3 separate regions of the Homo sapiens genome follow, and all the other regions are linked to region 2. Evidence: fine-mapped QTL for protein levels in blood plasma. A gene starts in region 2. Each other region holds a variant in brackets. All regions are shown on one strand. Distances are from middle to middle. Region 1 has its middle 46 kb from the start of OR9Q1. Region 2 holds the start of TIMM10 (translocase of inner mitochondrial membrane 10). Region 3 holds the start of SMTNL1 (smoothelin like 1).

What was found. A credible set is the group of variants that fine-mapping cannot tell apart. PIP is the posterior inclusion probability: the model's chance that the variant is causal. The UK Biobank Pharma Proteomics Project read protein levels with antibody pairs (Olink). The fine-mapping took linkage between variants from a reference panel, not from the people measured, so its PIPs are less certain.
Region 1: its variant is the best candidate, but not a certain one, in a credible set for the plasma level of the TIMM10 protein (UK Biobank, PIP 0.73).
Region 3: its variant is the best candidate, but not a certain one, in a credible set for the plasma level of the TIMM10 protein (UK Biobank, PIP 0.51).

What each region holds. Positions count from the first base shown.
Region 1 is chr11:57,973,693-57,981,871 of GRCh38, forward strand. No RefSeq gene overlaps it. Among named protein-coding and RNA genes, the nearest start is that of OR9Q1, 46 kb to the right of the region's middle. RefSeq lists a silencer at 5,085-5,379. The variant G/A (reference allele first, on the strand shown) is at 3,209.
Region 2 is chr11:57,525,342-57,533,499 of GRCh38, forward strand. TIMM10 (translocase of inner mitochondrial membrane 10) reads right to left here and starts at 5,413. Exons shown (of 3, transcript NM_012456.3): 1 at 5,317-5,413; 2 at 4,778-4,893; 3 at 3,123-3,577. The coding sequence starts at 4,848. The coding sequence ends at 3,376. It also overlaps the pseudogene RN7SL605P. RefSeq lists enhancers at 361-958, 5,413-5,592.
Region 3 is chr11:57,537,362-57,545,540 of GRCh38, forward strand. It overlaps SMTNL1 (smoothelin like 1), which reads left to right and starts at 234. Exons shown (of 8, transcript NM_001105565.3): 1 at 234-281; 2 at 5,280-6,013; 3 at 6,263-6,395; 4 at 6,508-6,559. The coding sequence starts at 5,282. RefSeq lists an enhancer at 6,042-6,932. The variant C/T (reference allele first, on the strand shown) is at 3,599.

The DNA.
Region 1 (8,179 bases), 450 kb after region 2:
AGGTGGGTGGATCACCTGAGGTCAGGAGTTCAAGACAAGCCTGACAAACATGGTAAAACCTCATCTCTACTAAAAATACAAAAATTAGCCAGGCATGGTGGCGGGTGCCTGTAGTCCCAGCCACTTGGGAGGCTGAGGCAGGAGAATGGCTTGAACCCGGGAGGTGGAGGCTGCAGTGAGCCGAGATCATGCCTCCGCATTCCAGCTGGAGTGACAGAGCAAGACTGTCTCAAAAAAAAAAAAAAAAAAAAAGGTCTTTATAATGAGGCGCATTTGTGATTTCAACTTTTAGAGTTTACAAAATAAATTTAGCCTTTACCTTTTACTCCTTCCTCTGAGAGTTTGAATTTATGAGTTGGTGTTCTAATGGAGTTGGTATTCTTATAGATAACTCCATCTCAGAGGTAAATATAAATCTAGAACTGGGATTGGCTAATGTCTTTTGTAAAGGGCCAGATAATACACATTTTTGACTTTGCAGGCTATCTAGTCTTGTCACAACTATAGAACTTCGTTGTTGATAGCATGAGGGAGGCTGCTATGTTCCAATGCAAATTTGTTTATAAAAATAGGGGCAGGCCATGTGTGGTCCACTAACCACAGTGTATGGGCCTCTGATCTAGACTGCACTTTGTCTTTATTTACTTCAAAGTGACAGCAGCAGCCCCTTTCCTTCAAGGAGAAAGATCCCTCCCCTAAATAGTCCTTTGCTTTAATTTTTCTTAATTAAAAGAAAATTTAAAAATTAAATTAAAAGAAAATTTCAAATTAAGATGGACTAATTCAGAAAATTTATACAATATACAAGAAAAAGAAGTAAAATAGTGAAAATCTTATCCTTACCTTCAAACACTCTAAGAATAACCACTGTTAATAGTTTGATATATGTTTTTTCAGATTTTAAATGTGTGTGTATATATATCATATATAACATATATGTTACATATATAACATATCTATTACATATATTATATATTACATATAACATATATATGATATATATACATACAGACATCCACAGACAGGGGTTTTGTTTTTGTTTTTTTTTCTTTCCTTCCTTTTGCTTTTCTTTTCTACCTTTCTTTTCCTCTCCCTCTCCCTTCTTTTCTCCCCTGCCTCCTTTTCTTTCTCCACTCCTCCCTTTTTGCTTTCTAACACATATGGTATCATTCCGAAATACTGTTCCGCAACTTGCTTCCTTCACCCCGCATTACATCACTGTATGCCTGTTTGGGTTGGAGAGGCGCACATTCCACAGTTGGTGCCCTGTTGTTGCCAAACGACATGACGTGAGTGTCGGATTATTTTCGGTGAGTGGTGTTAGAAGCAGGTGCGAGTGCAGGCCTTATGCATCTCCACCCACACAAGCTTGCTGCTGCCGGAGTGTTGGTATGAGAGCAAGTCTCAGACCAAATGCCAGCAACTGTACAGTCCTTTCTTGGCTCGCAGGCATGAACAGCTGGTCTGGAGTTTGGAAGGGGGCTCTGCTTGTGTGGTCAGCCACGCTGACCAGCACTGTAATGAAAATCTCGTTCTAAAGCAGATACCCGCTTACAGCAGGATGGGCAAACTCCTCCAAAAAGTAGAGAAATGGGCCCAAGTGACTTTAGCCCAAGCATCCTCTCCCCATGTAAACTGTTGGGCTTGCCTTAATTTAAAAAAATACGTTATTCATGGAAGGGCCATGAGCCTTGTTACACAATTCTAAGTGAATCACAGATTAGCCCCCACTTCCTTTTTTAGAAAAAGGGAAAGGATAATATAAAAATACCCACATATCTTCTCTCCAGATTCACAGTTATTAACATTTTCCCACATTTGCTTTGCCTACTTTTCTTTCTAAGAAATAATATATACATATATTTACCTACACACATACATAAGTCATGAACATATATGGGTCTATATTTTTAAATTTTTATTTTATTTTTAATTGTGGTTATAAACGTATCACATTAAATTTACTATCTTAACTATTTTTGTGTCCAGTTCAATAGTGTGAAGTATATTCACATTGTTGTGCAACAGATCTCTAGAACTTTTTCATTTTGCAAAACTGAAACTTGATGGCCAGAAACAAACTAATTCTCCTTCTCCACTCTCCCCGTCCTTGGCAACCACTTTCTTACTTTCTGTTTTTATAATTTTGACTACTTTAGATATCTCATGTGAGTGGAAAAGTGCTGTATTTGTGCTTTTGTGACTAGCTTATATAACTTAGCATAATGTCCTCAAGGTTTATGCATGTTGAATGTGACAGGGATTTCCTTCTTTTTAAAGGCTGCGTAATACTCCATTTTAATGCATATACCACGTTTTCTTTATCCATTCATCTGTTGATGAACATGTGAGTTTATGCTTATGTATCTTTTTCCAAACTACTTGAAAGTAGTTGGAACATTATGATGCTTTACCCTTAAACACTTCACCTTAAATACTAGCTGCTAAGAAGAAGGCCATTCTCTTACATAACCACAATTACATGATCATGTTTAAGAAATTTAATATGCAGTCTATACTCAAATTCAAATTTTCCCAATTGTTTTAATAATAAAATAATATATCTATTTATTTTGAATCTAAGGTCCAATCAGGGATTATTCATTGCATTTAGTTATCGTGTCCATTAGTTTTTAAATTTAATTTTAATCTAGATTTTTAAAACTTTTATTTTGGAATACTGAAAGTTCTGAAGAGTCCAGACCAGTGTTTTTGCATAATGCTCTATAATTTAAACTTCTCGAATTTTTCCCTATGATTAGATTTAGGCTAGATATTTTTGGCAAGAACTCTACACAGATAATGTGTTCTTCTCATGTAGGAGACACAAAATGTCATTTTTTCCCCATTACTGGTGGTATTAATTTGTTTACATAATTAAGTTGATGTCTGCCAGATTTTATTTCCATTAGGTATCTTTTTCTCTTTGTTATTAAAAAGCGACCTGTGGGGTGATACTCTGAGACTGATTTAGCACCCATTGATAATCCTAACCTGCATCAATCATCACATTGGTGGTTTCGAAGTAAACCGTGTCTTAAACTTTAATTTCTCTAGTGAAAGTTATTTCTAATATTCTTTATGCCAATCAGCTAGCCCTAAGAGGCTGAATAAAATTAACTTTCACACACACCACACTACTCATCCTGATGTAGTTCCTAGTAAATCACTATGAATAACATTTAACACCTATTTGACCTATTTACTG[G/A]GTGATCTGAAAAGCCACCAGGTTTGATGAGAGCTGGGCCAGGGGAAAGCATCTCCAGGGGGTAAAAGCTTTTAAGTTGATTGGCTCTGCAGCTAGGCTCTTAAGACCCAGCAAATTTTGTAAGCTGCATGGGACAAATTGGCTTGCTAGGATTTTGGAGGAAAGTCACCTCTTTCAGCAAAGAACTTTTTTCTTTTTTTTAAAAAAAAAAAAAAAAAAGGAAATAACCCCTGACTTGCAATTGGGCTGTACTCTGGTCTGAATATTTGTGTCTCCTGCAAATCCACATGCTGAAATCCTAACCCCCAAGGTGGTGGTATTAGAAGGTGGGGCCTTTTAGAGGTAGTTAGGTCACAAGGGTGAAGTCCTCATGAGTGAGATTAATGCCCTTATAATAAAAGAGACCCCAGAGAGCTGCCTTGTCCCTTCCACCATGTGAGGACACAGCAAGAAGCTGGCAGTCTGCAATCCAGGGGCAGGCCCTCACCAGAACCTGACCGTGCTGGCACCTGATCTTGAACTTCCCAATCTCCAGAATTGGAAGAAATAAATTTCTGTTGTTATGAGCCCCTCAGTCTCAGGTATTTGGTTTTTATAGCAGCCCAAATAGACAAAGACACGCTCTGATGGTTAAGGGTTTGGAAGAAGCAAGACTGGGAAATGGCTGAGGAGGCCTGTGAAGGTGTCTGTGAACTGACCTCTCAGGTAAATGTGAAGTGAGGAGCTATTTGTGGCCCACATGAATGCTTGCCACAAGGCCTTGATACAGAGGGGGCCTTTGTGACTACGTAAGTAGGATGGATGGCCCACTCTGTGAGATGTTAGACTCCTTTCCCAGATATCCCAATGCTCACAAAAATTGGGGTATCCCAGATACCTCAGTGCTCACAAAGTGAGTGTGGTGGCAGGAAGGGAGGCTGTGCCTGTACTCAACAACCCTTTTCCTCTCACCAAGTCTGACCTGCTGTGGTGGAGTGCAGGGACTGTTGGCAGCAGTGGCCAAGTGGCCCTGAGCTCTTGGAATGCTGTGATAACTGGAGGGTGGGGGGAAGGGCAGCCAGCTCCCCAGAGGTAGATTAGCTGTATTGGATTCTTTCCACGATGGAGGAAGTAATGCTTTGTTTCCAAATACTCTGGGTTTGGGTTGGCTTTTGTTGCTTGCCTTAGCTCTGCCAGCACCACCATCCATATGCGAGTGGTTCTCAACCAGGGAAAATCTGGCTTTCAGGGAACACTTGACAATGTCTAGAGACATTCTGATTGTCATATCTTGGGAGGGGGATGCGGCTACTGGCATCTGGTTGGTAGATGTCAGGAATGCAGCCAAACATCTTACAGTGCCTAGGACAGCTCCACAACAAAGAATTATCTGGTTCAAAATGTCAAGAGTGTTGAGGTTGAGAAACCATTTTATTCCATCAAGGTGTCTTCCAGATATCTTAACTATAAAGGAACTTACCTGTAGTTAAAGAAAGAAAGGCAGCTGCGTGCAGTGGCTCACACCTGTATTCCCAGCACTTTGGGAGGCTGAGGCAGGTGGATCGCTTAAGGTAAGGAGCTCAAGACCAGCCCGGCGAACATGGTGAAACCCCATCTCTACTAATAATACAAAAATTAGCTGGGCATGGTGGTGGGTGCCTGTAATCCCAGCTACTCAGGAGGCTGAGGCAGGTGGATTGCTTGAACCTGGGAGGCCGAGGTTGCAGTGAGCTGAGATCGTGCAACTGCTCTCCAGCCTGAGTGACAAAGAGCAAGACTCCGTCCCCCCGACCCCCCACCCACCAACAAAAAAGGCAGTAGTATGTTTAGTAATTGTGTCCAGTTGCAAGTAACTGAAAATATGACTAAATGAGATTTTATTTTTCTCAAGTAAGTTCCCATCTTTGGTTCAGGTGCTTTGAAATGTCAAAGCTGAGGCTGATTGTGATTCTATTTGCTTTCCTTCTTACTGCAAGATGGTCCACTAGAATGTACACACAACAAGGGCAAGGATATTTGCTTACTGCTATATCGCCATAGCTTGGAAGAATGGCAGGTACTCATTAACTGACCATTTGCTGAGTGGAGCGCCAGGCAGCAGAAAAAGAAGAATATGCAAAAGAAGAGATAAGTTTCATGTTAGGAAAATAAAACAGTCCTAGAAAATCCACAGGCAACTTTCACTTGGGCTTCGCTGGCCAGATCTCAGGGACACCTGTAAGGGAGGCTGGAACATATAATTTTCAGCTTGGAATATTGCTGCCAGATACTCAAAAATATTGCTTTTCTGTAAGTAAGGAAGAAGTGGGGATGGATATCTAGTAGCAATAAAGACAATTTTTGATAGGTCTTGGACATGGGCTTGCAGACTTATCTCTAGGCAAGACCTTGAGCATGGAGAATGTGAGAGATTGCAAGATCAGGACCATAGAAATGAAAACTAGAGCAACTGCTTCTCAGAAGACTCATCAGAATCAGCAGAGAAACAGCCTGGTGGTAAACTTGTGACTGCTTCATGTCTGTGACTCAGACAGATGCCTTATTTGCATTCAATCTAATGAATCTGATGTTGACCACACAGTTTGAAAAAAACAAAAATAGACATAAAAGTTCAACAAATGACTTGAGCTGAGATTTATTACAGGTCAGTCTGAAACTAAGAAGATAGTACATTGTTTAAATCAGACAGCCTCACCTTCTTGGGAACTTTATGGCTTTTGCATTTACAAATCTTGCTCTTGTCTTTAGTTGGCGAGAGTGTCTACACAGGGTTCCTGGGCTTTATGTACACTCAGGATTAACTCTGATCCTAACCATGACCCTAGCCCTAGCCCTAACATTAGCCTTATCTCTAACCCTAACTCTAGCCCTAGCCCTAGTCTTAGCCCTAACCCTAACCCTAACTTTAGCCCAAGAAGGTAGGCTTGGTGCCTGCCTGTTTATGAATGATGAAACCTGCAAGGCTTAGGCTAATTGCCTCTGAGTTATTTTTGGCCCCAACCCACAGGACTGAATTTCTCTGTGTTGGATCATATTTTCCCTGCTTTGCCCAGCAGTAAACTCAGATTAACAATCACAGTGATTTAGAATTATTATTTTTTATTTTGTCAGCACCAATTAGGAGTGGCTGCCACAGTGGAGTTTTTCTGGTCAAACATGAGGGATTGAGCATATAATTTTACATGTGATTTCTTCCATGACTCCACTAAAATATTGGCAAAAGGAAAAAAGGTACAAATCTATAAGGACAAAGGGAGCATAAAAGGACAGCAGAGCACCTGGGAGATGAAGAAAGCTAACTCTTAAATCCCTACAGAAGGGAAGGGATGAGCTAGCAAGACATTAGTTAAGTCTCACTGCAGAACTCCCCAAAGACTCAGGAGCTGGAGACATAAGCTATTCTAGAGGCAGGGGTAGGCTGGGGCTAAAAACAGGAAGATGCTTGAAAGTCTGAATAAAGAGTGATTGTATCCCAGATTCCTTACCCCACTACAGCGAAAGATTTTTGGAGGCAAGTGTCTCTCGGGAAATGTTGAACCACAAGAGCTTTTGGATTTGTACATACCAGGCACAGTTGAGGACAGTTGTCAGGTGCCAGATTGAACATGGGGACTAATGGAAACCTAAAAGAGGGTTTTCTAGCTTGCTCACTTACCTTTGGCTCCCAGAATGCTGGCAGGTGGGCTCATAGCTGCCAGGCAGAAGTGTGGAGAAGTCCTCTCTGGGGAGACCACCAACCAGAAGAGAGCTGCCCATTTTACCCACCACCAAAGGCCAGTGCCCCTCTCACTTGCTCTTTGCTGATGCCTAAGAACCAGAAAGTCCTGCCCAGACAGAACTGTGCCTCAGTCTTAAATATGAAAGGACAGCTAAACTTTCTTGGAGAAAGCCACTAGGATGAAAGATAAGGTCAAAGTCAATAAACAGACTTTGGAGCAACTTGGAGAAAACAGAGTAACTGCCCCCAATTATTTTCTATTTCCATTTCTTGTTAATTTCTTTTGTTAGCACTATCACTTCCTAACATTATATAGTACATCTCTTAGTTTTTTGTTTACTCTTTGCCACCCTCAGCAGAATGTAAACTCTATGAGGCCAGAGACTGTGTCTTGTCCGTTTTTCTCTCACCAGTACTCATGACTGGCACAAGGGGAGTTCCAATAAACGTTGTTGATCAGCCTGGCGTGGGGACCCACACCCATATTCCCAGCACTTTGGGAGGCTGATGCAGGAGGACTGTTTGAGCCCAGGAGTTCTAGACCAGCCTGGGCAACATAGTAAGACCCTGTCCCTACAAAAAATAAAAAATTAGATGGGCATGGTATTCTGTGCTTATGGTCCCAGCTACTTGGGAGGCTGAGGTGGGAGGGTAACTTGAGCCCAGGAGACCGAGGCTGCAGTGACCTGTGATCATGCCACTGTACTCTAGCTGGGGTGACAGAGTGAGACCCTGTCTGAAAAACAAAAAATCCCACAACAAACACACCAAATATTGATTGAATGAATAACAACTGTATCCATAATAAAAAAGAGTATTATAAAAAAACATTAAAAAGCAGAAAATACTTTGGAACATTAATAGTATAATAAGACATTTTAAAGAATTAATTTTAAAGAATTCAATAGGAGATTTGCAAAATAAAATTGAGAAAATATCCTCAAGATACAGAATAAAATGATGAAAGATAATAACAAAAAAGATAATAACAAAAAGATAATAACAAAAAACATAAGAAAATTAGATATAGCACAGAATCTTAACATCAAACTAATGGGAATTCCAGAAAGGAAGGACAGAAAATTTGGACAGAATTCAAGCATTCACTGGGTACCTGGGTAAATAAATGACAACAGAATTATTTCAAGGCACATGATTGTGAAATTTCAGATTCCGGGGTATAATAAGAAGATCCTGTAAAGCTTCCAGAGAGTAAAAGGAGATCACAAACAAAAGATGAGTATCAGAATGATGTTGGACTTCTCAATGACAGC
Region 2 (8,158 bases):
GGCCCCAGTGATCTTTGAGGTTGCCTACCACAAGACATTTACAGAATGTTTTCTCATATAGCATCCAATTCATCTGGGCACCCAGAGCAGAAGGCACACACCAAATGCCTACATGTCAAGCAGATGATGACAGCGAGGGAAGACATCAGTGATGGGAGGTTTGGCAGACAACTGAGCCTCTGCCCATCCACCATCAGGCTGTTGCCGAGCAGGAATGCAGGTCAACTGTTGTCAGATCTTCCAAATTTTCTTTTTCTTTTTTTCGAGGCAGGGTCTTGCTCTGTCTCCCAGGCTAGAGTGCAGTGGTGCAATCTCATTTCACTGTAACCCCTGCCTCCCGGGTTCAAGTGATTCTCATGCCTCAGCATCCTGAGTAGCTGGAACTAAAGGCATGCACCACCAGCCCAGCTAATTTTTGTATTTTTAGTAGATACGGGGTTTCGCCATGTTGGTCAGGCTGGTCTCCAACTCCTGACCTCGGGTGATCTACCCACCTCAGCCTCCCAAAGTGCTGGGATTACAGGCGTGAGCCACCGCTTCTGGCCCAAATTTTCAAAAGAAGCTGACATCCTAATTCTTTGAGACATTCTCTGATTTTTAAAACTGATAAGCAAAAATGCACCTGAGGACTAGCAGTTTATGAATCCTCCCTATGGCAGAAAGTACCTACTTGTTTTGTTTTCTTTTTTTGAGACAGGGTCACACTCTGTCTCCCAGGCTGGAGTAGAGTGGTGCAATCTCAGTTCACTGTAACCTCTGCCTCCTGGGTTCAAGTGATTCTCGTGCCTCAGCCTCCCAAGTAGCTGGGATTACAGGCGTGCACCACCAGCCCAGCTAATTTTTGCATTTTTAGTAGAGATGGGGTTTTACCATGTTGGCCGGGCTGGTCTCAAACTCCTGGCCTCAAGTGATCCACCCTCCTCGGCCTCCCAAAGTGCTGGGATTAAAAGCGTGAGCCACCACCCCTGGCCGGCCTAATTGTTATTTCTTATACCCTTTTATGTGTGTTCCAGCCCTCCTACTGTCCACTCCACCCCCATCCCACTTGCTCATAGGGATCTAACTCACTTTGGGCGCTTTCCACAGCTCTTCACATGTAGCAGGCCAACAATATTGTTGAATGAAATATGAAACTCGACACATATCTCACTAGGGACCATTTCCCCCAGTCCTAGAGCAGTGGTTAAAAGTGGCCTCTGGTGTCTAAGTTAGAATCCTGGCTGGACAACTTGCATGCTGCATGAACTTAGGCAAGTTACTAGCTTTTGAGAGCCTCAGCTTCTTCAGCTGGGAACGATTGTACCTGCCTTACAGAGTTGTTAGATGGATTAGCTGAAATAATACACGTGAAGAATTTAGCACAGAGCTTAGCACACAATAGCAACCCAACAAATGATTTACTGTCACTCACATCGTCCCCTTTCTCTCCTCACTGGCTTCCTGCCTCATCACCCTTTAGTGCTTTATCTTCCATCTTCTGCCACTGTCTACCTGGCTGGCAGCTCGAGTGAGCCACCAAAACGCAAACGTGTCATTGTCACTGAACGATTTAAACTCTTCAATAGTTTGCTGTTGTCCTTAGTAGGAGAAAATCCAAACTCCTTATCACAGTTCACCAAGCTCTTTTGGAGCAAAATCTGCCCAGCCTCCAAGCCTCATCTTCACCTCTCTTCACACCCAGCACTCCAGCCACACTGAAGCTGAAGCTCTCCTTTCCTGAATGCTCCACCTCCACACTTACGCCACTTCAACAAAGCCTTTGCAAGTGCCATTGCCTCCAGCTGGAACCTCTAATCCCCACTCCTACCACCCCTTCTAGATGTTCTGGCTATGTGCTAACAGAGAATTCTTGATGTTTCTTGCTAAACCTGAGGGTATGCACAATATCGATTTTCCTCACCTGTCCTCTCTTTCAAGAACAAGGCCAGCAAAGAATAGGCAAATGATAAAATGTGCGGAATTGTCCACAGCAGTGCTGACCATGAGCAGACGGCGCCACCTGTTGACCAAAATCTGCACTTCAGTACCTGGAAAGGAACTTTCTTTCTTTCTACCCTAAAGACTAGTAATGGCTTTGAAGTTTTCCAGTACATCCGGTATCTTCACCTCCCACCAAACTTAGCAATGAAAAAAGCTAATGTTATTGGATACTCAATGTATGCTAGGCACTCTCCTAAGTGCTTTGGTTATTAACACGTTTAATTTTTGCAACTACCTAATGAGGTGGGTAACCTTACTGCCATTTTATGATGGGGTAATTGAGGCACAGAGCAGTTAAAAAGCCTTACTCAAGATCACACTGCTAGAAAATTTCAGTAGAAACTCAAAGTTAAGCAGTCTGGCTTGAACCTGCACTCACAAGCCCCAAACTCACTGCCTCTATTCTGTCTCCTTTACTCCAATGACCTAGTTACATCCCAGACACTTCTACCAGGAAGGCCCACTTTGAAGGTACTGCTGTCACAGTGGCACTGGTGTCAACCACAGTCCCATCTGGAGACAGCAAACGCAGCAGTCAGGTCTGGCCTCCATGGTATTGTTCTGCTTGTGTGACCTCCAGCAAGCTTGCTCCAGCAAGCAACTTACTTCTTAAATCCTCAGCTTGCTCATCTGTAAAACAGGATTAGTCAGGGGGCTAACCCTATTTTACAGATGCGGAAGCTAAAGCACACAAAAGTGACAGGTGCAGGGCCACACAAAAAGCAGCAGACAGCAGGCAAACCTAAGCTGTCTTACTTTTTTTTGAGATGGAGTCTCACTCTGTTGCCCAGGCTGGAGGACAGTGGCACAATCTCAGCTCATGCAACCTCCGCCTCCTGGGTTCAAGCGATTCTCCTGCCTCAGCCTCCTGAGTAGCTGGGATTACAGGCACCCGCCACTACACCCAGCTAATTTTTGTATTTTTAGTAGAGACGGGGTTTTGCCATGTTGGCCAGGCTGGTCTTGAACTCCTGACCTCAAGTGATCCACCCACCTCAGCCTCCCAAAGTGCTGAGATTACAGGCATGAGCCACCTTGCCCGGCCTGTCTTACTCTTAAACACTCATTAATCTCCCTCTGCTGGTAGGGGCTGTGTCTGTTTTCTTTACTCTCAAATGCCAAGCACACTGCTTTGCACATAGTAGGTGTCAACAAACTTGTTTATATATATATATATATATATATATATATATATACACATACATACACACACAGTCACATTCCAGTGTGACAAATACTCCTTCACCAGGAGACAGCGCTACCACTCCGGGATCTTGAAGACTCTCTACAGAGAGCCTAGGCCTGGCAGTCTTCACAGATGACACCCAACAGGGAGCACGTTTATTAAAGTGGGAAGGGGTGGGGTACACCCCAGGGTGTATACTGACAGGGACCTCATGCAGGCCCAGAGCTCTGCTGCACCCTCTTCATCAGCTCTTCATCCTGCATAGACAACTCTGTCAACTTTTTGCCCATCCGCTCATGGATGTCCAGGTACTTAGAGACACATCGGTCCAGGCACACAGACTCGCCCTTGGAGAGCTCTGCTTCCTTGTAGTGAGGAGGCACACACTTCCGGTGGCAGGCACTGGTCATTCTGGAGGGAGGGAGGGGCAAGGTCATGTCAGCAGCATCCTGTGACATCCCAGGAACCTTGACCATTCCAGCCCTGCTATATTGATTTCACCTCCCCCAAGAAAGCAGTGTAAATCCTCAGTTTACACCTCAACCACTGGAAGGTCCTTGCAAGTAGGAAACTTGTCTAAGTCCATGTATATGACTAACTAAGTAGAAACCATTTGTTGAGGACTGGCTACATGCCAGGCATCCTGCTAAGTGCTTTACCTGCATTCTGTTATGCAATGCTTACAATAACCCTAAGAGACATGTATCCCCATTTTACAGATGAGGAAATTAAGGCAAACAGAGGCTCAGTAATTTTCTAAGGATCACACAGAGCTGGGTTATGAAGCCAGGTCATCTGACCTCACAGTCTACACTTAAAAATCCTTCTAATTTATAGCCTTCAGGATAAACCAACCAATCAAGAGAGCTTAAGCCAATAAAAATAGCAGACATTTCACTAAGTGTTGGGCTTGAGGCTAAGGGCTTTCATATATTTTTAGATTTAATATTTATGATGTCCTATGAGGTAGGTATCATTATGTCTTCTTCATAATGAGGAAACCAATTGTCAAACAGTGCAAGTAACATGTCCAATTATACTGCTGGTGATTGGTGGAGCCAGGATTTGTTCCCAAATTTGCCAAATGGTTATGAGCACTAGTTGCAGAATCAGACTGAGGTGCTAGTTCTGGCATTGTTACTGACCAGCTGCCGACCCTAAGGAAGTTACTTAACCTCTAGAATCATCAATTTCCTCATTTTAAGACGGGACTAATAAAATTAACCCACTGGATTATTTTGAAGATTAACAAGTGCCTGACACAGAATAAAGGGTTTTAAAATGTTAACTACTAAATGGGCTGGCTATGTGCTATTTGTCAAGAGGCAAATACTCAGCTTTTCTTGGAACCTAACCAGAGCCTGGATTGGAGTTTCTCTTCCTGCTTGGCTCCTGCATTGCCAGTTCCATCCCCATCTAAATGCCCAACTCATTCTAGTGACCCTTTACTGCATCTACATTAGGATCAACCTTGAAGGTGGGTGTGGGGAGGGTAAGCATGGGCCTCAGGCTCCCCTACATTCAGGAAGGAATTTGTCATAAGTCATTCACCTTCGATAAGGGTGACCAAGACTTATTTTCCAAGACAGGGTAGCACATAGTTCTCTTTACCTGTTGTACATATCGGCCATCATCTCCACCTCCAGCTCCGCAGCCAGCTGTTGGGCCCTGAGAGGATCCATCTCAGCCTAGCACCGTGGAAGGGATCTCCTTCTGGCCTCCTAATCCTGGGAGCAGACATCACCATCAGCACCCACCGCCGCCGTTCACTCTCCTACCCCTGGGGCTAGAGGATACAGAGGACTCACAGGGCGCCAGACCACCACGGGCCACTAACCTCAGTGAGCTTAACCACCCCATTTCACGGATGTGGAAACTGAGGCCTAGCCCAAGGTCGCACAGGACGTCTATGGCGAGCCTGGAAATCGAGCCCCGGATCTCTGATGCCCCAGTTCCTGGAGGTCACCTCTATTCAGGAGATCGAGGACCGGAGGAGAACTCTCTAACCCACGAACCTGAACCTCCAGGGCCCTGGGAATGGGATCATACGCTGAACAGAGGCGACCGGGACCCAGCCCAAAGGCTACACCTCTGAAATGGCGACGCCATCATCAGGGCCACATTGAATTCAGAGGTCATGTGTCACTTACCACTGCCTGGGACGGATCACAATGCCCACGGAGACCCCAACTTCTGACAAATACTATAACGTTACCCGCCTCCCGAGAGGCTCCAGCGGAAGCACGTGGGTTACTTCCGGGAGGAAAGTCCCGCCTCTTCTTTGATTCAAACTCGCTTCCGGAATTAAATACCAACGAGACGGCGCCGGGAACTCGGCGATCATAGAGAGGGAGCGGCTGGCGCCGGGCGAAGAGGAAGGCGACTTGCCAGTGCTAGAGAGGACACCAAAGTACCATAGAAGCTTGGGCGGGGTGCAGAGCGTCTGCAGCCCGATCAGAATTCAAGTCCTTTGGGATGTCACCGAGCGGCTTCAGTTTATTGGTTCTGTAGGAAGAGGCGTGGCGACAGACACCTGTGAACCTCACCCCCGTTCCAGACAGCCGACTCCTGTGCGCAAATCAGGCGTGGAGAAGGAAGAACGCCCCCAAACAGCGGTTCTGTTTTTGTTTCGCGTTAAAATCACCTGGAACGTTTTTAAACATCCCAGTGCCCAGGACTCACCTCATTTCAATTAAATCAGAATCTCTGGGAGTACAGTTTAAAATTCCTCAGGCAGCAATACAATTTAAAATTCCCCAGGTGATTCGTATGTACAGCCAAATTTGAGAAGCAGTGCTCCACGGGACGTTGTGCGATTACTGCTGTGTGTAGGTCACACTAAGCCCCGTCTGGGGTTGCAAAGATAAGCGAGATAGGCTTCCTGTTCGCAGAAAGACAAGACGTGTAAAATATGTTTTCTTCAACAGTTAGAGGTCCTCAGCCACAAAGAGATAATAAAAGCAATTTCGGCTGCCACCAGGGCTAATCTTGGGTGAGGGAAAGAAGGGTACTGGTGAACTTTCCAACTTTCAAGACTTAATGTGTTCTTCAAACTGCACCATTCACTCATTCCCCACTAAAAAGAAGGAAACAAGGAAACAATACTCAGTCCCTTGATTTGTCACACAATTTCCTGGTAAAATAAATTTACAAGATGTAAATTAATGACGCAAGGGCACATTGCCCATTGGAAAAGGTGGGCTAGACATTTTCTGTGTGGTCATCATAAGCTTCCCTAATTGTCCAAGACCATCCTAATTTTAAACAATTGACCTTTCTACTGCTTTGAAGACTCATCTTTGCCAAACTTGTGCCCTGATTTTTAAAGATTGGGGTATAACATTCATAAAGTGCATAAAATACACGAATGTTAAGCTTAATTAAATATATATGTATCTATATATGTACATTTGTATAACCGCCATCCAGATCAAGATATAAAATACTTCCTGCACCCCAAAAAGTTATCTTGTGTTCCTTCCCCATCAATACCCCCTCTCGAAGTTAACCACTATTCTGACCTCTATCACCATCAATTAGTTTTCCTTGTTCTTGAACTTCGTGTAAATGGAATTATACATTATTTTCTATTTTGTGCCTGACTTCTTTAGCTCAATGTACCTGTAAGATTTCCTCCATATTGTTGTGTGCATCTGTTATTCCTTCTGTTTTATTGCTGTCTAGTGTTTGATTGTATGAGTATGCCACAATTCATCTATCCATTCTCCCGTTGGTGGATGTTTGGATTGTTTCCAGTTTTTGCCTATTATGCAATAATGCTGCTATGATACTCTTGTACAGATGGACATATCTTGCCTTGGTTTTTGCCTTTGAAAATATAGTCAACATTGGCCGGGTGCAGTGGCTCACGCCTGTAATCCCAGCACTTTGGGAGGCTGAGGTGGGTGGATCACCTGAGGTCAGGAGTTCGAGACCAGCCTGGCCAACTTGGTGAAACCCCATCTCTACTAAAAATACAAAAAAGTAGCCCGGTGTGGTGACGGGTGCTTGTAATCCCAGCTACTCAAGAGGCTAAGCAGGAGGCTAAGGCAGGAGAAACACTTGAACCCGGGAGGCAGAGGTTGCAGTGAGCCAAGATCGCACCATTGCACTCCAGCCTGGGCAACAAGAGTGAAACTCCGACCCCCCACTCCCCGCAAAAAAGAAACATTATGGAAAGTTAAGAAACTGCGTGGGAAAAGGAGATGGTTTCTTACAAGAGGAATCTTGCAATATCTACTGGGCCTTATGAAAGGTTGCATACTGTATGATTTCATTTAAGTAACATTCTCAAAATCACAAAATTATAGAGATGGAGAAGAGATTTCTGATTGTCTAGTGTTAGGGTTGATGGGGAGATAGAAGTGTACCTGTAAAGGGTAGCACAAGAGAGATCTTTGTGTTGATGGATAATTCTGTATCCTGATTGTGGTGGTGGTTACAAGAATCTACACAGGTGATAAGATGTCATAGAACTGGCAGGGTGCGGTGGCTCACGCCTGTAATCCCAGCACTGTGGGAGGCCCAGGCGAGCGAATCACAAGGTAGGAGTTCGAGACCAGCCTTGTTGGTGAAACTCCGTCTCTACTAAAAATACAAAAAATTAGCTGGGGGTAGTGGCGGGCACCTGTAACCCCAGCTACTCAGGAGCCTGAGGCAGGAGAATCGTTTGAACCCGGGAGGTGGAGGTTGCAGTGAGCCGAGATCGTGCCACTGCACTCCAGCCCAGGCGACAGAGTGAGACTCCGTCTCAAAAAAAAAAAAAAAGCCAGGCGCGGTGGCTCACACCTGTAATCCCAACACTTTGGGAGGCCGAGGCGGGTGGATCACGAGGTCAGGAGATCGAGACCATCCTGGTTAACATGGTGAAACCCCGTCTCTACTAAAATAAAAAAAATCAGCCGGGTGTGGTGGCATGCGCCTATAGTCCCAGCTACTCAGGAGGGCGAGACAGGAGAATCGCTTGAACCCGGGAGGCGGGAGGCAGAAGTT
Region 3 (8,179 bases), 12 kb after region 2:
GACGTGCCGTGATTGAAAGGTGCCACCTGTCAGATCTTCCACGGGAAATCCGAGCCTCCCAGTCTAGGGTAAAGTGTTGTACCAACAGGCCAGTAAACAATGCTCTTCAGGCAGCCCAAGACTCTTGAAGTGGGGGTGGGGTGGAAGAGGGAGAGGAAGGGGGGAGGCGGGACCAAAGAGCTGGGGGCTAGAGGCCACTGGGGCTTAAAGGCAGCCTGGGAGTGAGGCCACTCAGCTGGAGCAAAGAGACAGCTCCCAAGCCACAGGCAGAAGCCCCACAGGTAGGAGAAGCCCTGGCACCCTTTCTAAGGGTCCCTCCCCATCTGCCAATTCTCACTCCCACTGTCCAAGGGCCAGAGCCTCCCAGGAGGGCCCCCCATTTGGAGAAATCCAGGCTCCTTTCTAATTCTCTCCACCACAATGTCTACTCTCTTTAGATGCCTGGGGTCTCAGCCCTGCACCAGAGCACCTACAGAGCAGACTGCAAGTGGCCATCCACGAGGAGGCCACAGAGCAGGGGAGGGGACCTTGGGAGTCTCAAGAGTCAAACTGGGTTGGGGGGTAGACTGTCTAAGCCAAGCCTGTCCAGCCCACAGGCTACCTGTGGCCCAGGATGGCTTTGAATGTAGCCCAACATGAATTCATAAACTTTCTTAAAACATTATGAGATTTTTTTTTTTTTTGCAATTTTTGTTTTAGCTCATCCACTATCGTTAGTGTTAACGTATTTTACATGTGGCCCAAGACACTTCTACTTCTACCAGTGTGGCTCAAGGAAGCCAAAAGATTGGATACCCCTAGTCTAAGCAATTGAGGTCGGCCTCTCCAAGGGAGGGCCCCTGGCTGAGTGGGGAAGGTGGAAGCCTTAGGACAACCAGATGACAGATGAGGCTGCAGTGGGTGGCAGACGCACCACAGAACATCCAGTGTTTATACTACTGGGAGTTTGGATCTTGGGCTCCTGGGTCCCTTTCCTCCTGGTCTGCCAGAAGAAACAGGAAGAGAGAGGGAGGGGAGATATCTGCAGTGCTGCTTTGGACACAAAACAGGGATGGTTTGGAGACTTCCTGGGGAAGGAAGGAGGAAGGAAAGGAGAGAATAAGAAAGGAAGGTGGGGGCAGAGAAACTTTCATGAAGGGCCTACTGTGCACCTAGAAGAAAGAGGGAGGAACTCCTCGGCTGAATCTGACTGCCCTTCCCAACTGGTGGGGTGCCCCCACTCTGGGCCAGGGCCTTTGTAGGGACACTGGGCTGCGGAGCTAGTGGGAGCATATATTTGATGTGAGCTCTGGAGTGGAAGTTGGGATACTTGGATTCTAGATAGAGAGCCAGGCCACTTGTCCTATAACTTTAGTCAAGGGACTTCAACTCCCTGAGCCTGAAATCCCCATTGGCTCCCTAATGGGGCCAATAACCTATTCTGAAGGGTCGGAGCAAGAAATGACCAAGAGAAAGCAGGGCCTCCGCAGCATAAGCTGTAAACTGCTGTAGGGCTGTGAATGCTGGGGGTGGGTGGTGGCGTCCTGGTTTCTCAGCATTCTGAGCATCTTCACTCCTTTTCTATTTGTGACAAGCCTGGAGGGTGGAAAGCTGAGGTGATAAACACGCAGGATAGCCGAGGTGTGTGTCCGTGTGCGTGCACCTACCCTTCCCCTCCACCACCCTAAGTATGCAGCGTGTAGGCAGAAGGAAAGATGGTTAGAGCGGCCAGTCTCAGTGGCTCATACCTATAAACTCAGCACTTTAGGAGGCCGAGGCAGGAGGTTCACTTGAGGCCAAGAGTTTGAGACCAGCCTGGGAAACATAGCGAGACCCCATCTCTATAAAAAAAATAAAAAACAAAAAATTAGCCAGGTGTGATGGTGCACATCTGTGGTCACAGCTCCTCAGGAGGCTGAGGTGGGAAGATCCGTTGAGTCCAGGAGGTAGAGGTCACAGTGAGCTATGATTGAGCCACTGCACTCCAGCCTGGGCAACAGAGTAAGACCCTGTCTCTTAAAAATAAAAGATGACTGGAGCACTCAGCTATGTCTTAGCCAAATAGTGTCATACTTTGAGGTATAAAAAGGGCTTGTTATCATCCTACTGGCATTCAGTTCTCTCTGCCTTGACTCACTGATAAATGCCCTCAAGGCTGGGTCAGGACCTTGCCCTGGCACAGGGCTGGGCACAGCCAACCCACATCATACGAGCTGATGGGTGCTGAGTACTCATTCATGCCAAGCATGCCTCTGAATCCTGTTTTGTTTTGTTTTTTTAAGAGCTGAGGTCTCACTTTGTTGCCCAGGCTGGAGTGTAGTGGCTATTCATAGGCATCATTATAGTGCACTGCTTGACCTCCTGGCCTCAGGTGATCCTCCTGCCTCAGCCTCTTGAGTGGCTGGGACCACAGGCATGTGCCGCCACGTCTGGCTCCAGATATTTTCTAAGCATGGGCTTTCTTAATCCTCCACCATCCCTATGGGATGGGACCTATTGTTGTCTGCAGAAATCAAAACACAGAGAGGATGGATAGCTTGCTCAAGGTTAACACAATTAGTAACCCATGGGAGCTGAGATCCCATCACAGGAAGACACCAGAATCAATGATTTTCACTGCTAGTCCATGTCACCTTCCAAACAAGAGCAGAGAGAAAGAGGGGAAGGGATTGTGTTAGACCAGCATTTGCCATGCTTTCTTCTGCTGCTAGAGAGAGTGGTAGATGCTCCTCAGGGAAAATCAAAGCAAAAAGAAAAGAAAACAAAGGGAGGAAAAAAAAAAGTCATGGTCAAATAGGTTTGGAAAAAAGTGAGTTAAATGAAGTTTAAGCAAGGTTTAGGTTTCTTGACTATCTGGTTTCTAAAATCTATTTAAATGCTAATGAAGTTATATATCTGTTTTTGTTTTGTTTTGTTTTGTTTAATTTTATTTTCCTTACTATAGAGACAGAATTTAATATGTTGCCTAGGCTGGTCTTGAACTCTTGGGCCGAAGTAATCCTCCCACCTAGGCTTCCCAAAATGCTAAGATTATAGGCATGAGCCACTGCGCCTGGCTGAAACTGTATATCTCTAAGAGGGTAAAGAGTAGGCTTTTTTGTGGAGCAACCTTAGCCAGAGAATATCCTTTCTCCCAACCCCACAGAAAACCCTATCCATGTCACGGGAGACCCTAGTTTTCCACAGAACACAATGTGGAGAACCTGATCCAGATGAACCCCATCATTGTCAGTTGAAACTGAGGCCCAGAGAGGGAAAACTACTTGCTCAGGTCTCAGTGGGGACTGGAAGATGCAGGTCACAGCCAGCTCCACAACTTCACACCTCCCGGCATCTCTGCTGATGTGCGTCCATCCCCCTGGCTCATCTTCCCTCTTTTTTTTTTTTTGAGACGGAGTCTCGCTTTGTTGCCCAGGCTGGAGTGCAGTGACGCGATCTCGGCTCACTGCAACCTCCACCTCCCGGGTTCAAGCAATTCTCCTGCCTCAGCCTCCCAAGTAGCTGGGATTACAGGCGTCTGCCACCACACCCAGCTAATTTTTGTATTTGTAGTAGAGATGGGGTTTCACCATATTGGCCAGGCTGGTCTTGAACTCCTGACCTTGTGATCTGCCCGCTA[C/T]GGGCTCCCAAAGTGCTGGGATTACAGGTGTGATCCACCATGCCCGGCGTCATCTTCCCTCTTACTTTAAGACATTGCTGGAGCCGCTGAACCAGGAAGGGGCTCTAGCAGGAATCAGAGGACAGTGTGAGCATCTTTACAAATCCCAGCCTACTTTTAGGAAATAGTGAGGGCATCGAATTCAGGAACCCCAGGACTCTGGGTAAGACCCCAGTGGGTGGTGGGAAAAAAGCCCTATCCCTGTCTTCTTGCCTCCTGTCCTCTGCCCAATTACCCAGGTGCCCTCGGTACTATCACTGAGAAAGATGGTACTGCCAAGGGCAGGGGGTATTTTTAGTGTGTGACAGGAGTGTCCACTTTTCTTACTGCCTGAGTCATGCCCTGAGCCCTATTTGGGGATTGTTTTCTTTGTAACTACACCCCCCAAAAAGGGCAGGAGCATGAAGGAGCTAACCCGGGGCCCCCACACACCTGTTTTTGTAGATCCTCCAGTATATACAGTACTTAAATAGGAAACTCCGAGTTAAGATGTCATAATCTACCCCCATGCTCCCGGGGGCAGTTGGAGAGTCAGATTGCTCAGCAGAGGCCAGGGAGAGTACGGCTCCATTCTTCACTCAAGGAAACGCTTCCTTGCCCAGGCCCACCTTTTCCAAAAACCACAGGCTGGTAGAGCTGGCAAAGCTCCAGAGACCAGTTGGCCCTGGGGTTCCCAAATTTCAGCCATTTTTATACACCACCTCTATAATTTTGCTACATCTGCACTGCCTATATTCCAGTTTCCTGAATTACTTCCTTTGAATCAACTTATTTTTAAGTTCAGTAAATGTATTTTTAAAAGACACTGTATCACTGTTGGAAATGGAAACTCAGTATCACTTACCAGAGATAGAAAGTAACTGTAAAAATAAATACAATGGAAACAAAATGGTGTTATTCAATTCTATCTAGATACTTCTGCTTGCCTAGGCTCTCAGGGGAGAGTAGCAATTGTTCCATAGGTGTTCTAGGATGCCAGTATAAAACTGTGACCAGGCACTGCTCATGCCTGCAATCCCAGAACCTTGGGAGGCCGAGGCAGGTGGATTGCTTGAGCTCAGGAGTTTGAGACCAGCCTGGGCAACATGGCAAAACCCCATCTCTACAAAAAAAAAACACACACACACACACACACACACACACACAAAAATTAGCCAGGTGTGGTGGTAAGCACCTGTAGTCCCAGCTACTCAGGAGGCTGAGGTTGGAGGATCACCTGACCCCAGGAGGCAGAGGTTGCAGTGACCTGAGATTGTGCTCCTGCACTCCAGCCTGGATGACAGAGCGAGACCTTGTCTCAAAAAATAAATAATACAATAAAATTGTGACCACCTCAGTGGCTTAATCAAAAAGAGGCAACATGACTGAAAAGGCATTATGTGATTCAATGTTCTTTAAAGCCAAAGCCAGAACCTACCGAGGGGCATCAGGTGAACACCATCCAACGTCATGTCAATGTAGCCCAACCATCCCAGCTTTGGGGAAGCACTTCTCTCTCCTTCGTGATTGGGCCCCATGTCCAAGTAGGAGCCAAGACTGAACCACGGACTTCCTGACTCCCAGGCCAGAGCTCTCTGAGGGTGGGGTCTTCACCTCATGCTGGGCTGGGGCATGACCAGGTCTGCTTGTCTTCTCTTTCCAGAGATGGAGCAGAAGGAAGGGAAGCTCTCTGAGGATGGGACCACCGTCTCCCCAGCTGCGGACAACCCTGAGATGTCAGGAGGTGGAGCCCCTGCAGAGGAGACCAAAGGCACAGCTGGAAAGGCCATCAATGAGGGGCCTCCCACTGAGTCAGGAAAGCAGGAAAAGGCACCAGCCGAGGACGGCATGTCAGCAGAACTCCAGGGGGAAGCAAATGGATTAGATGAGGTCAAAGTGGAATCTCAGAGGGAGGCTGGTGGGAAAGAGGATGCTGAGGCTGAACTTAAAAAGGAGGATGGTGAGAAGGAAGAGACCACTGTGGGTTCTCAGGAGATGACTGGCAGGAAAGAAGAGACCAAATCTGAACCCAAAGAGGCTGAGGAAAAGGAGAGCACGCTGGCCTCTGAGAAGCAGAAGGCTGAGGAGAAAGAGGCCAAACCTGAATCTGGGCAGAAAGCCGATGCCAATGACAGAGACAAGCCTGAACCTAAGGCAACAGTTGAGGAGGAGGACGCCAAGACAGCCTCTCAGGAGGAGACAGGCCAGAGGAAAGAGTGCAGCACTGAACCCAAGGAGAAGGCTACTGATGAAGAGGCCAAGGCTGAATCGCAGAAGGCTGTTGTGGAGGATGAGGCTAAGGCTGAACCCAAGGAGCCCGATGGGAAAGAGGAGGCCAAACATGGTGCAAAAGAGGAGGCTGATGCAAAAGAGGAGGCGGAGGATGCAGAGGAGGCAGTGAGTGAGGCAGGAAAGGAGCAAGGAGGCTCTGTCGTCTCCTGCTTCTGGAAGCAAGCCCCCTCTGCTTCAGTCAGTTGGGAAAGTCCAGTTTTCCTCCTGATGATTTCCAGAGCCCAGGGTGGGGGAGGGGGGACAAGGAGTGCAGCACCGTAGTCCCAGGCTGCCTTTCAGAACTTTCTGAAGTCCTCATGAAGCCAGGGCAGGTGCTGTGTGACCATGAGCTCACGCAGATCATGCTCATTCCAGGAGCCAGGCAGTCCCAGCGAAGAGCAGGAGCAGGACGTGGAAAAAGAGCCAGAGGGAGGGGCAGGGGTGATTCCCAGCTCCCCAGAGGAGTGGCCTGAGAGCCCCACTGGGGAGGGGCACAACCTCAGCACAGGTGAGTGAGAGCCCAGAGCCCATGGGATGCTGCAGAGGCCACCTGGGGGAGGGGCGCAAGAAGCATGCCATGGATAGCCCCAGCTTCCCTCCCTCCTTTCACTTTCCTCCAGATGGGCTGGGTCCAGACTGTGTAGCTTCCGGACAGACCAGTCCTTCAGCCAGGTAATGTCAAACTCTGGGGCTCCAGCTCCAATTCCCCCTACCTCCTGCTTCCCTCAGCGTCCACCATCAACTCAGTCTGGGTTCCCCCAGCACCTGATTTCAAGATATTCGAGGATTCCTGGCATTCAGCTTCCTATCCCAGGGCAGAGCCCAGGAAACAAAAGAAGCCAGAGGCATGGTCGGCTGCAGTGGCTCACGCCTGTAATCCCGGCACTCTTGGAGGCTGAGGTGGGTGGATTACCTGAGGTCATGAGTTCGAGACCAGCCTGGCCAACATGGTGAAACCCTGTCTCTACCAAAAATACAAAAATTAGCTGAGCGTGGTGGTGGGCACCTGTAATCCCATCTACTCGGGAGGCTGAGGCAGGATAATTACTTGAACCCAGGAGGTGGAGGTTGCAGTGAGCCGAGATTGCGCCATTGCACTGCAGCCTGGGCGACAGAGCAAGACTCCCTCTCAAAACAACAACAACAGCAACAACAAAAAACCAGAGGCAGAAAGGAGCACGAAGGATACCTGGTCCACTTCCCATGCCATGGCTGAAGTCTGCCCTGTGGCATCCCTGACACTTCACAGGAGCTCCTTATCTTTCAGCTGAACATGTTTCCATGGTGCCAGTCATCCAAAAAGCATGATCAGAAAGCCCGAGTTGGGACAATGGTTCTGCCATGTACCAGCTGTGTGACCTTGGCCATGTCACTGAACCTCTTCTCATCTGTGAAGTGGGCATAGCAATTGTATCTACCTCGTAGGATTATTCTCAGGCTTCAATGAGTAACAAGTGCAAAGCACTTTAGCCCAGTGCCTGGTCCCTGGCAGGTGCTGGATAAAATAAGAGGCTTATGCTTGCCATTGCACAACTTCAGTCATTAGAAGGATTATCTGGAGCTGAAATCTGCCTCCTTGTCCTCCCCCCATTTTTTTTTTTTTTTTGAGATGGAGTCTTGATCTGTCGCCCAGGCTGGAGTGCAATAGTGCGATCTCAGGTCACTGCAACCTCTGCCTCCCGGGTTCAAGCGATTCTCCTGCCTCAGCCTTCCAAGTAGCTGGGATTATATGTGCGCGCCACCACGCCTGGCTAATTTTTGTATTTTTACTAGAGGCAGGGTTTCACCATGTTGGCCAGGCTGGTTTTGAACTCCTGACCTCAGGTGATCCACCCACCTTGGCCTCCCAAAGTGCTGGGATTACAGGCATGAGCCACTGTGCCCGGCCTCCTTGTCCCTTTCTTAGGGAAAGATAACCAGTGAATAGTCACCCAGCAGGCACAGCTGGATGCTTTACATTCACCTTCTTACATAGGGCAGGTAGGTATTCTTGTCCTCATTTTACAGATGAGGAAGCTAAGGCTCAAACAATGTGACAGTCCCAAGATCACACAGCAAATAAGAGGCAAAGCCATGCCAAGCGCAGTGGCTCACACCTATAATCCCAGCACTTTGGGAGGCTGAGGCGGGTAGATCACTTGAGGTCAGGTGTTTGAGACCAGCCTGGCCAACATGGTGCAATCCCATCTCTACTAATAATACAAAAATTAGCTGGGTGTGGTGGCGGGCACCTGTAATCCCAGCTACTCAGGAGGCTGAGGCAGGAGAATCGCTTGAACCCGGGAGGTGGAG